3 linked regions of the Homo sapiens genome follow. Changing the gene in region 3 together with the main gene of any one other region gives a genetic interaction. Each region holds a gene or a part of one and is shown on either strand. Other genes may lie near its edges.

The links.
Region 1: changes in MED4 (region 3) and GEMIN5 together harm fitness more than expected from each alone (negative genetic interaction), as found in Homo sapiens cells (one large-scale study listed by BioGRID).
Region 2: changes in MED4 (region 3) and ACTL6A together harm fitness more than expected from each alone (negative genetic interaction), as found in Homo sapiens cells (one large-scale study listed by BioGRID).

The regions. Positions count from the first base shown.
Region 1 is NC_000005.10:154,886,895-154,890,203, forward strand, and holds the end of GEMIN5 (gem-associated protein 5), read right to left. Parts: intron 2,524-3,309; coding exon 2,427-2,523; intron 1,484-2,426; coding exon 1,316-1,483; 3' UTR 517-1,315; downstream 1-516. UniProt on the Homo sapiens protein: The SMN complex catalyzes the assembly of small nuclear ribonucleoproteins (snRNPs), the building blocks of the spliceosome, and thereby plays an important role in the splicing of cellular pre-mRNAs.
Region 2 is NC_000003.12:179,572,869-179,576,526, forward strand, and holds part of ACTL6A (actin-like protein 6A), read left to right. Parts: intron 1-500; coding exon 501-601; intron 602-1,501; coding exon 1,502-1,599; intron 1,600-3,348; coding exon 3,349-3,443; intron 3,444-3,658.
Region 3 is NC_000013.11:48,085,058-48,088,715, forward strand, and holds part of MED4 (mediator of RNA polymerase II transcription subunit 4), read right to left. Parts: intron 1,396-3,658; coding exon 1,225-1,395; intron 1-1,224. UniProt on the Homo sapiens protein: Component of the Mediator complex, a coactivator involved in the regulated transcription of nearly all RNA polymerase II-dependent genes.

The sequences.
Region 1 (3,309 bases), on a different chromosome or scaffold from region 3:
CAAGAAAGATTCTCCATCCCTGGTAACAAAGCATCGTCTTCCTAAAGTTCACTTCACTGTATGAAGAACTGTGAGGATCTAAATTCTACAGTATTTCCCTTTGTGAGTTTATTAAACTCTAATGCTAGGCACATACACGTCTTTGAAAACTGCCTCAAACTTTCTCCTTCCTGGGACTTCCTGTAAATGAATTTCATTCTCACTGTCCCAACAGCTCCAATCCTAGGAATTAATTGAAAAATAAACTACAAACGTGAGCAGAAAAGCCTTCACAATGAATCCTAGAGAAAACAGTTCAATTATCTGAAAGGAGTGTTCCTTCCTACACCCATGCCAGACTCTGATTTTCCCATGCTAGCAACTGTGACATTACAGAAACATCTGTTCCTGACACTGTTCAACTGTTTAAATAACCAAGGAGGAGAAAAAAAAGATTTATAATTAAATAGTATTTAGGGTCCCAATAGTCAGAGTCCAATAATCCAAAGGTCATCTATGCAAAATTAGGAATATGCATTTTTCTCCAAAGAGTATCTTTGGCTTTAATCTGATTCTCAAAAGGATCCTATGATCCAAGAAAGTTTAAGAACCATTGAAACAGTAATTTATTCCTGAGCTATTTGACTGCCATCAATCCATTTGTTATAAAACTGAAGGGAAAACACACATTTGAATCACTTCTTCTAAAGCTTTAGTAAGTGATCTGTTCAAATAAGCAATTACATGAAAGAATAAAACCAAATTTCCAACCTAAAATTCTGACAGGAGAGTCAACATGATGGTTAAGGCCTATTTCATATTCAAACTTCAGTCTATGAAAGAGTAGAGAGAGAAGGGTCTCCTCTTTCAAATTAAATATTATAAAAACAATTAAAAAAAGGTATCAATAGTCCTAAAATGCAGCAACTCCATCTCAAACAAGCATGACACACTTCTGATCAGATGAAGTATTTACAAAGGTAGCTTGTGTTTTAAGCATGTAACACTTTGGGTGACGACAGAAGTTTCTCCTCTTTGGGTGAAACCTGCCTAAGGCTGTAGAGATGACCAACACTCTGCAGGTGTTAGTTCTGAATAACTACTGTGGGCTTTTCATGATCTTCCCTCCAGTAGGAGACCACAATTGAGTCTAAAGTCAGATCCACCGTTGTCTATGGGTAGGCAGGGTTGATTCAAACTTAATCCTTGTTTGTATTCTTTTGGATTACTGCAAAAACATCTAGGGACCAGAGTGAATGTCTGGTGAGGCATAACTGCAGAGGTGAAAGATGTCAAACATTTTCAATTTGGCAGTTTCTTCAAGGTGTGTGAAAATTCACATACAGAAGGTCTGGCAGTGTCTTCTGTAAGTTTTCGTGTTGCCGTATTTCTGAAGGAGCTCTTGGGCCTGCTGCTGCATTTCCTGGGCCAGACAGCCAGGAAAGTGGGACCTGATGAGAAGCAGGACGAGGCAGCACTCCAGCACATCTGGGAAGGGCCAGGCCTGAAAGACGATGACATGAGGATGAATAAGGAAGCATTTGCAGAAGAGCCACAAACACCTGCACAGAAGGCACCAGTCACTCAGGTTCATCTATAGACACTTCTTGGACACAGCTGAGCCAGCTGTCTCCTAAGGCAATGTCCTGTCTTTCTCTTCAACAGTTACTCCAAGGAGAAATGACACTCAAAACTAGGATGGCTACTGCGATGTCCTTCTCAATGGCACAATCTCTTTCTACAGCCCTATGCAAATCCACCCTTAAAAATGGTGCTTCTATTAATATTTGGGCCCACAGCCAAAAAGACCTGTCCATCTGTAAGCTATCTAATACATGGCACCAATTTAAATTTTACTTCTTACCTATTAAATCTATTTGGTTTCTCTGAAGATTGAGGTATAAAATTACTTGTGTGATCGATAATTCTAGTCTCACAAAACATTCTAGCTAACCAAAGTAATTGGATTCTAAATTCTTTTTTTTTGTTTTGTTTTTTTTTTGAGACAGAGTCTCGCTCTGTTGCCCAGGCTGGAGTGCAGTGGCGTGATCTTGGCTCACTGCAAGCTCCGCCTCCTGAGTTCACGCCATTCTCCTGCCTCCATGCTATTCTCCTGCCTCAGCCTCCCGAGTAACTGGGACTACAGGCACCTGCCCCCACGCCCGGCTAATATTTTGTATTTTTAGTAGAGACGGGGTTTCACCATGTTAGCCAGGATGGTCTTGATCTCCTGACCTCATGATCCGCCAGCCTCAGCCTCCCAAAGCGCTGGGATTACAGGCGTGAGCCACCACGCCCAGCCTGGATTCTAAATTCTTAAGCACATATGAATGGGTAGAGATTTTAGAAACTGAACAGAGAGGTAGCTGACCTTTATAAGAATGTGGTATAGTCAAGTGATAACACAAAAAGTGATGCTTTACCAAATGAACTGCTTTAACTCTTACCTTAATGCTCTCAGGAAATTTCGCCATTCTCTGATTTGCCTCGGTAAGCCTTTTGGTTAACTCAGGCAGAGAAAGTGGCTCATTTTTTTCTTCTTTACTAGTGAAAAAAATAAAAGGTGTAAATTGTATGTCTTGCCCTGGGTAACATTTTTCTCCCATTGTTATTTTACTGTGGTAAAATGTATATAACATAAAGCTTACCATCTTAGCCATTTAAAAATACATAGTTCAGTGATTTTAAATAAATTCATAATGTGGTGAAAAACATCCCCACCACCCATTTCCAAAAACTCTTGTCATTTTGTAAAACTGAAATCTTATACCCATTAAACATTAACTTCTCATTCTGCTTCCCTTAGCCCCTGTCAACATTATTCTACTTTCTGTCTCTATAAATTTAACTATTTTGAGTAGTTCATATAAGTGGAGTCATATAGTATATGTCTTTTTGTGACTGGCTTATTTCACTCAGCATGATGTCCTCCCTTCGTAAGGCTGAATGACATTCCATTGTATGGATATGGCACATTTTGCTTATCCATTCATCTGTCAGTGGATACTTAGGTTGCTCCCGTGTTTTGGGTATTATGAATAATGCTGCCATGAACACAGGTGTGCACATATTTCAGACCCTGCTTTCAATTCTTTTGGGTGTATACCCAGATGTGGAAGTGCTGGATCCTATGGTCATTCTATTTTACATTTCTGGAGGAAGTGCTGCTGTACTGTTTTCCACAGTGGCTGCATCATTTTACATTCCCACCAATAGGCACAAGGGTTCCAATGTCTCTGCATCCTCCTCAACACTTGTTCTGTTTCTCTGATAGTAGCCTAATGGCTATGAAGTGCTGCTTCACTGTAGTTTTGATTTGCATTTCCCCAA
Region 2 (3,658 bases), on a different chromosome or scaffold from region 3:
GAAGCCAAATTGAAGACAGATGCTCTTCTTTGAATTTTTAACATGTCTTTTAGTCTTTTTCCAAATAGATTGTAAGTTTTTTTGAGTGTCGGGTCTAGACCATACAATTCTTTCTTTTTTTTTTTTTTTTATAAATCCAGCAGTAGTATCATCAGAAGGCCATACAATTCTTCTGTACTTCCTATTATCATTCTGATCACATTCTGGGCCTCTAATAAGTATTTATTGAATTGAATAACATTTACTTCATATTTTAGGTCTGTTAGATTAATTACATTTGGGACAGGTCTGGGGGCTGGAGGGACCAAAAAGAAGTTCTATATATCTAGAAGGCAAAGGTAATCTCTATATAAAGTAATGTGGTATGAAGTTGATCTGTAAAATCAGTAGGTTCTGTATACTAAAGTATTAATTGTTAAGTCATAGAAACAATTTCTCAAAAGATGCTATATTCATCTTCAACTATGCATTATTTCCAAGTTACTAATCTTATATTCTAGTTGAAGACTGGGATAGTTTCCAAGCTATTTTGGATCATACCTACAAAATGCATGTCAAATCAGAAGCCAGTCTCCATCCTGTTCTCATGTCAGAGGCACCGGTGAGATAAAGATTTTCTTTTTCACGTTTCTCTAGTTGTTTTTTTTTTTTCTTTTTTTTTTCCTTTAGTTTTCTACTCATTTGATGAACATTTTTCTTTAAAGAGGCATAGAAATTCATATTTTGAATTTGAAAATTAGGGAAAAGGATTAATTTTTTAACACTATTATAACTTTTATTTTACTATTCCAATAAATAAAATATCCAGAGAACAACAAAACACCCTAATGGATTCTTGTGGTTATTTATGTATTTCTAGGGATTTGTTTAACATTTTATTTCCTAGGACTGCTTCCCATTTTGAATTATGAATCATTTCTTGTGCCCCAAGGGCAGCGTATATCTACTTTTATTCAAGTTTCCAAGAAAGAATTGAGATGTTGAACAAGGGCTGGAAATTTCTGGACCAAAGTCTCTTGTGAAATACATTTGGTACATAGACAAAAAGGTCCCAGAAAGCAAGCATAATGGTCATAAATTATCAGTATCTTATTGTTACTAACTTACAGTATTCTTTTATGAATACCAACTATAAGTGGGAGAATTTGGTGGTCTAAAATTCATACTTAGGATTTGGATTACCATATTTACTCTTTAGATTTAATAATATGTTTATAAGAATCCTGGTTTCCTCATATGTGGAAAAGTCAGGAGCAATTTTATTATTAAAGAATTTTAATTCTTCTCTGATAGATTTATTAAATTTAATCTACATCTAAAGAAATAAATATTATAGAGGTTTTTTTATTTTTATGAGATATTATGAAAGATGATTTCCCATGGTATTTTATTCTGTTCTTAATGTTTTATATCTTTGTTAATATAGTGCTAGATTTTATCTGGAGATAAATCAACTTTTTAATTCTTAATAACTTGCATTTCTTTTTCCCCTCTTCTCAAGTGGAATACTAGAGCAAAGAGAGAGAAACTGACAGAGTTAATGTTTGAACACTACAACATCCCTGCCTTCTTCCTTTGCAAAACTGCAGTTTTGACAGCGTATCCTTGAAAGAGTAATACCTTTCCTCTTGAAGTATGTACGATACTAATGAATATGATAACTCTGGGAGAAGACATACGCCAATTATTGCTTGTTCCGAAGTTGTTTTTTTCCCTTTTCTCTTGCTTTTTAGCTATTCATCTTTTAGTATTTCTTGTTAGAACTGATGATACACCAGAAGGTATGAGGGAAATAAAATAACACTCAAATTCTGAGTGTTAAGACGTTTTTGTTTTTGTTTTTAAGAAGGGGCATGTGGATAGAAGGCAATGTTTTAACCAGTTGGCTTAGGTGAATTGAAAGATTGCCATTTTAAAATCTCCTTCCCTTCCAATATCATAGAAAACTGGAAATTGGCTGTAAATTCATTCTCCTTCAAATTTAGTCAGTCATCAAATCCTGCCTGTTCTTCCCTGCTATTTGCTTCTCTCTGTCCTACTGCCACAGCATTAGGTGGAAGCTATTTCCAGGATTACTGAAGCACGTCCTCTTGTCTGCCCATTCTTTACGCTGTTGCTCTAATAATCTTTCTATTTTTATTTATTTATTTATTTGGTAGAGATGGAGTTTCGCCATGTTGCCCAGGCTGCTCTCGAACTCCTGGACTCAAGCGATATGCTTGCCTCAGTCTCCCAAAGTGCTGGGATTACAGGCATGAGCCACCGTGCCCAGCCTCTAATAATCTTTCTAAAGTGCTAGTCTGCTTTAAGCCAGAATCGTCTTCTACATTTCTTCCTTTATTTTACTTTCAGACCGTGCTGAGGTACTTGCAGTTCTCTGACCTCGCTGTGTTCTCTTGCTTCTTGGTCTTCCCACATGCTCCTACTCTTGCCCATATTCCCTTCCCCAGATTTTACTATTGAATATCTCAGGAATAGGTTTCCCTTTTACATCACCATCTTCCCTGGGACATCCTGAGCTTTTCTTTTTACAGCTTTATTCATCATCTACTTCACTAAACAGGATAACCTTCAGGGAAAAGGCAGTTTTGGTGCACCATTGTGTGTCTACTGTGTTAAAGGAATTTTAGTGCCAGGTGAGCAGCCTCCCTCCTTCCTCCCTCCCTCCTTATTAAGCACCAGACTTAGTAGACACCTAATAGATGCTCAGTAAATATTTGATGAATGAGTGAATGTCCCTACTCCTAAACATCAGTTTAGTATATTCAGGTAGTATAGGCCATCTGCAGCACAGAACTGTGGAAAATGGGATCTGCCAATATTTACCAACTGTGGAATTCACCTGGAATAGTTTTCCCGCTCATTGAGTTGGAGGAGATAGGAACTGCCATATGGCTGCCAAACTGCTGAAACAGCTCTTTTTCAATGCTATGTGAGAATGGTTATAGTCCCTAGCTCAATTATCACAACCTCCCACTGTTCTTACCAAGTTTCTGTATATTTTGTTAAATAAATGCATCTCAGTTTGTTGTAAGCTCTTTGATCAGTCTCCAGAGACTTTTAGTGATTGTGTTAATTTTGACCAGCTTAATAGTAGCTGTTCCTAGGATAAAGGTTTCCCTGAGTGCCTGATACCTCCATTCTGGAATTCCTGCCTCTTACTATTTGTTTTTAAGCCAGAAATATTATTTTATACCAATTTTTATCCCTAGATTCACTGTAATACATTTTTAACTATAAGGTACATGTTTAAGAAATAGTTTCTGAAACATTATAAGAGCCTGCCCTTTACAATAAACATTATTTTAGCGGCCTTGATACTTTCTTTTCCTTAATGTTTTAAACTAGATTTGCTAATGGTCGTTCTACTGGGCTGATTTTGGACAGTGGAGCCACTCATACCACTGCAATTCCAGTCCACGATGGCTATGTCCTTCAACAAGGTAAATGTATTTAACCAGGATACACTGAGATGATTTTAGATGCCATGAGGATGCACATAATGAAATAAAATGATGAGTAGCACTATTAAAGCATATCAGTTTCTGAATAAGATTTTTTTTAAGTATGTTAAAAATCTTTAGTATATAATGTATATTTAAAACTGATGCATGGCTTTATTTATGTGTTGAAGGATAGTTCAGTTCATTCTACCTGA
Region 3 (3,658 bases):
TGGATTTCACCATGTTGACTAGGCTAGTCTTGTACTCCCGACCTCAGGTGATCTGCCCACTTTGGCTTCCCAAAGTGCTGGGATTACAAGTGTGAGCCACTGTGCCCAGCTAATTTTTTTTTTTTTTTTTTTTTTTGAGAGTCTTGCACTGTTGCCTGGGCTGGAATACAATAGCGCAATCTCAGCTCACTGCAACCTATGCCTCCCAGGTTCACGCGATTCTCCTGCCTCAGTCTCCTGAGTAGCTGGAATTACAGGCACACACCACCACACCTGGCTAATTTTTTGTATTTGTAATAGAGACAGGGTTTCACTATGTTGGCCAGACTGGTCTCGAACTGAGACTGGTCTCAATCACAGACTGACCTCGCGATCCACCTGCGTTGGCCTCCCAAAGCCCTGGGATTACAGGCATTAGCCACCATGCCCGGCCTGATTTTAATATATTTTTAAAAACTATTTACTAGTGAGTTGTTTCCTTAGTAGAGGTGATTAATTTACCCTGAACTGCCCAGGCTTCTAGTTACTGGAGCTCATTTTAATACATTTGTTAAGAGATTAATCAGTGGTAAGGATGCCAGCAATGTCTGGTCGACATGAGAATCAAGCTCAGCTATTTCTGCAATACTATCATGTTATATTAGTTAGTATTTAGTGAAGTAACTGGGCAAATAATAGCAAATAAGTTGCCTCTTTGAAATAGTAGCCAAGAACAGCAAAGGGAAAACTAGGATCCTTGATCTATGTCCAAATCCTACCTAGATGAGGATGAATGACTAAATTAATGTCAATTTTAATCAATTTATAAAATGTGTATATATTTTTATTGATTTCAAAATATATAAAAAATGAAAAATTTCCCTGATTTTTATGCTAAGGATCAGAGACCAAAAAAAAAAAAAGAGAGATTTAGACTACTGATAATTAAAATTTATATCAGACCAGGATAAAAGTAAAACTTTCCATTTCTATAATTCAATACTGTAAAATCTTTAAGCATCGAAAATGTGGCTCACAAGTAATGCAGACTATTTGAAAACAGTAAGTAAAAAAGAGAATGACAATAGCCTTTCATTTAACCACTGGCAATGGTGAGTGACAAGATATCACCTTTAGACTTGGAAAGTCTAGTTTTCTGCTCTTCAAAATATTGATAACAGATTTTTCAGAAACAGATTAAACAACATCCTTTTTAACCTTAAGAACCAACCTCTGTCAACTTACCAGTATTTGTTCTGCTTCCTTTAGCTGTTTTTGTAGCTGCTGAATATCACTGTCTCTCTTCTCTACTTCTTTTTCTAAAACTTGCATTTCATGATGAATTTTTCCCTGATTAAGTGCCAATTTCATTAGTTCTTGAAATTCCCCATCTCGGTGAATTAACAACTCCAGGACCTGTCAGATAACAGTCAATTAAATCAGACAATAGACTACTGAAAGGCTGCATTCCAATGAAACAAAGAATCCGTAACTGAATTGGCTAGGCTATAAATTTCAACACCTTCAAAATTTTATTCCTAATTCTTGTTAAGAATAAAAAGAGCCTACCTATGATTATTTTGGGAAACATTAATATCAAACTTTTCTACTTTTTCAGATATTCTTTCATACAAAACAAAATAAAACTAGCCTTTCAGAACTAGCAATATGGCAACATGAGCAAGTTTAGTGATTTCCTAGGGAAGACACGATTTTAAAGTTTATCCTTATGGCTGGGCACAGTGACTCATGCCTGTAATCCCAGAACTTTGGGAGGCTGATGCGGGCAGATCACTTGAGGTCACGAGTTCTAGACTGGCCTGGCCAACATGGTGAAACCCCATCTCTACTAAAAATACAAAAATTAGTTGGGTGTGGTGGCGCCTAAAATCCCAGTTACTCAGCAGGCTGAGGCAGGAGAATTGCATGAGCCTGGGAGGTGGAGGTTGCAGTGAGCCAAGATCACGCCACTGCACTCTAGCCTGGGTGACAGAGTAAGACACTGTCTCAAAAAAAAAAAAAAGTTTATCCTTAAAAATACAATATAGGCCAGGCGCGGTGGCTCACGCCTGTAATCCTAGCACTTTGGGAGGCCGAGGCAGGCGAATCACCAGAGGTCAAAAGTTCGAGACCAGCCTGACCAACATGGAGAAACCCCATCTCTACTGAAAATACAAAATTAGCTGGGCGTGGTGGTGCATGCCTATAATCCCAGGTACTCAGGAGGCTGAGGAAGGAGAATCGCTTGAACCCGGAGGCAGAGGCTGCGGTGAGCTGAGATCGCGCCATTGCACTCCAGCCGGGGCAACAAGAGCGAAACTCCATCGCAAATATATATATGTATATATAAATAATGAAAGTTCTCCCAAAATTTGGTATTTGAGATGATTTTAGGTGGCACCAAGAACTTAAGAAAACTTTTACACTTACACATTTGTGCTAATATATATTAGAAAAAACTGAGACACTGAAACTCTGAGTTTATGCACAGTATTGTTTACAATGAAGATGATCTTAAAAATACGGTGATTTCGGCCAGGCGCAGTGGCTCATGCCTGTAATCCCAGCACTTTGGGAGGCCGAGGTAGGCGGATCACAAGGTCAGGAGTTTGAGACCAGCCTAACCAACATGGTGAAACTTCGTCTCTACTAAAAATATAAAAATTAGCCGGGGGTGGTGGCACATGCCTGTAATCCCAGCTACTCAGGAGGCTGAGGCAGAAGAATTGCTTGAACCCAGGAGGCGGAGGTTGCTGTGAACCCAGATCACGCCACTGCACTCCAGCCTGGGTGACAGAGCAAGACTTCGTCTCAGGAAAAAAAAAAAAATACAGTGATTTCATAAAACAGTAAACAAACAAGTGGTATGCAGATACGGCAAAAACCATGAAGGCTAAAACACATAAAATAGAAAGTCTGGTGGTTCATATCTCTAGTCCTCCATCTGCTAGCTGTGTGACACAGGGAAAGTTACCAGCCTCTCTGAGCCTGTGTTCTTAATAGGAAAAGGAATATAATATTAATAGTAGCCATTACATGAAGCTATTGTGAGGATTCATGATATATTGCACTTTAAGTACATACAGGAAGAGTTCAGCAAAGGCTAGTTATTACGATCACTACCCCAGTACAGAATTAAGATGCAAGTCTAGTCTAAATATCCTTTACTGTGCTAAGTAGAGAATACTACTTCAGAAAGAAAATATCTATCAAAATTCAGAATCAATTTTAAAACTATTTAAAAAGATTTGTTGAAGACTAAAAAGTACAGGTATGCCTCTTCAAGATCCTTTTGACATGAAGTTCTTCTCATTTTATAGGAATTCTTCTAATACAATAGACAAAAGACTGAGCTACAAACTGCCAAATATTAAGAGTATTTTAAATAACAACAGAAAGCTTTTTCTGTAAAAAGTAAAGTATATTCTATTTATTTAACAGACTTCTAATCCTCATTCCTCCCACATCGTAGGAGAAAGCTAGGTTTCCATTTCTATAAAAGCTGTATTATTAAAGCAAGTAGTACACAGTAGTTCCCTGACAACTTTCAAGAAGTTTACACAGGTTGAATTAATTTGTATACTACCCATGAGTAAAAAATATTCTCTTTAGATCTTATTGTTCAGTAGAAAAAAATTATTCAACTAAAGTCAGAAGACCTAGGTTCTGGTTCCACTCA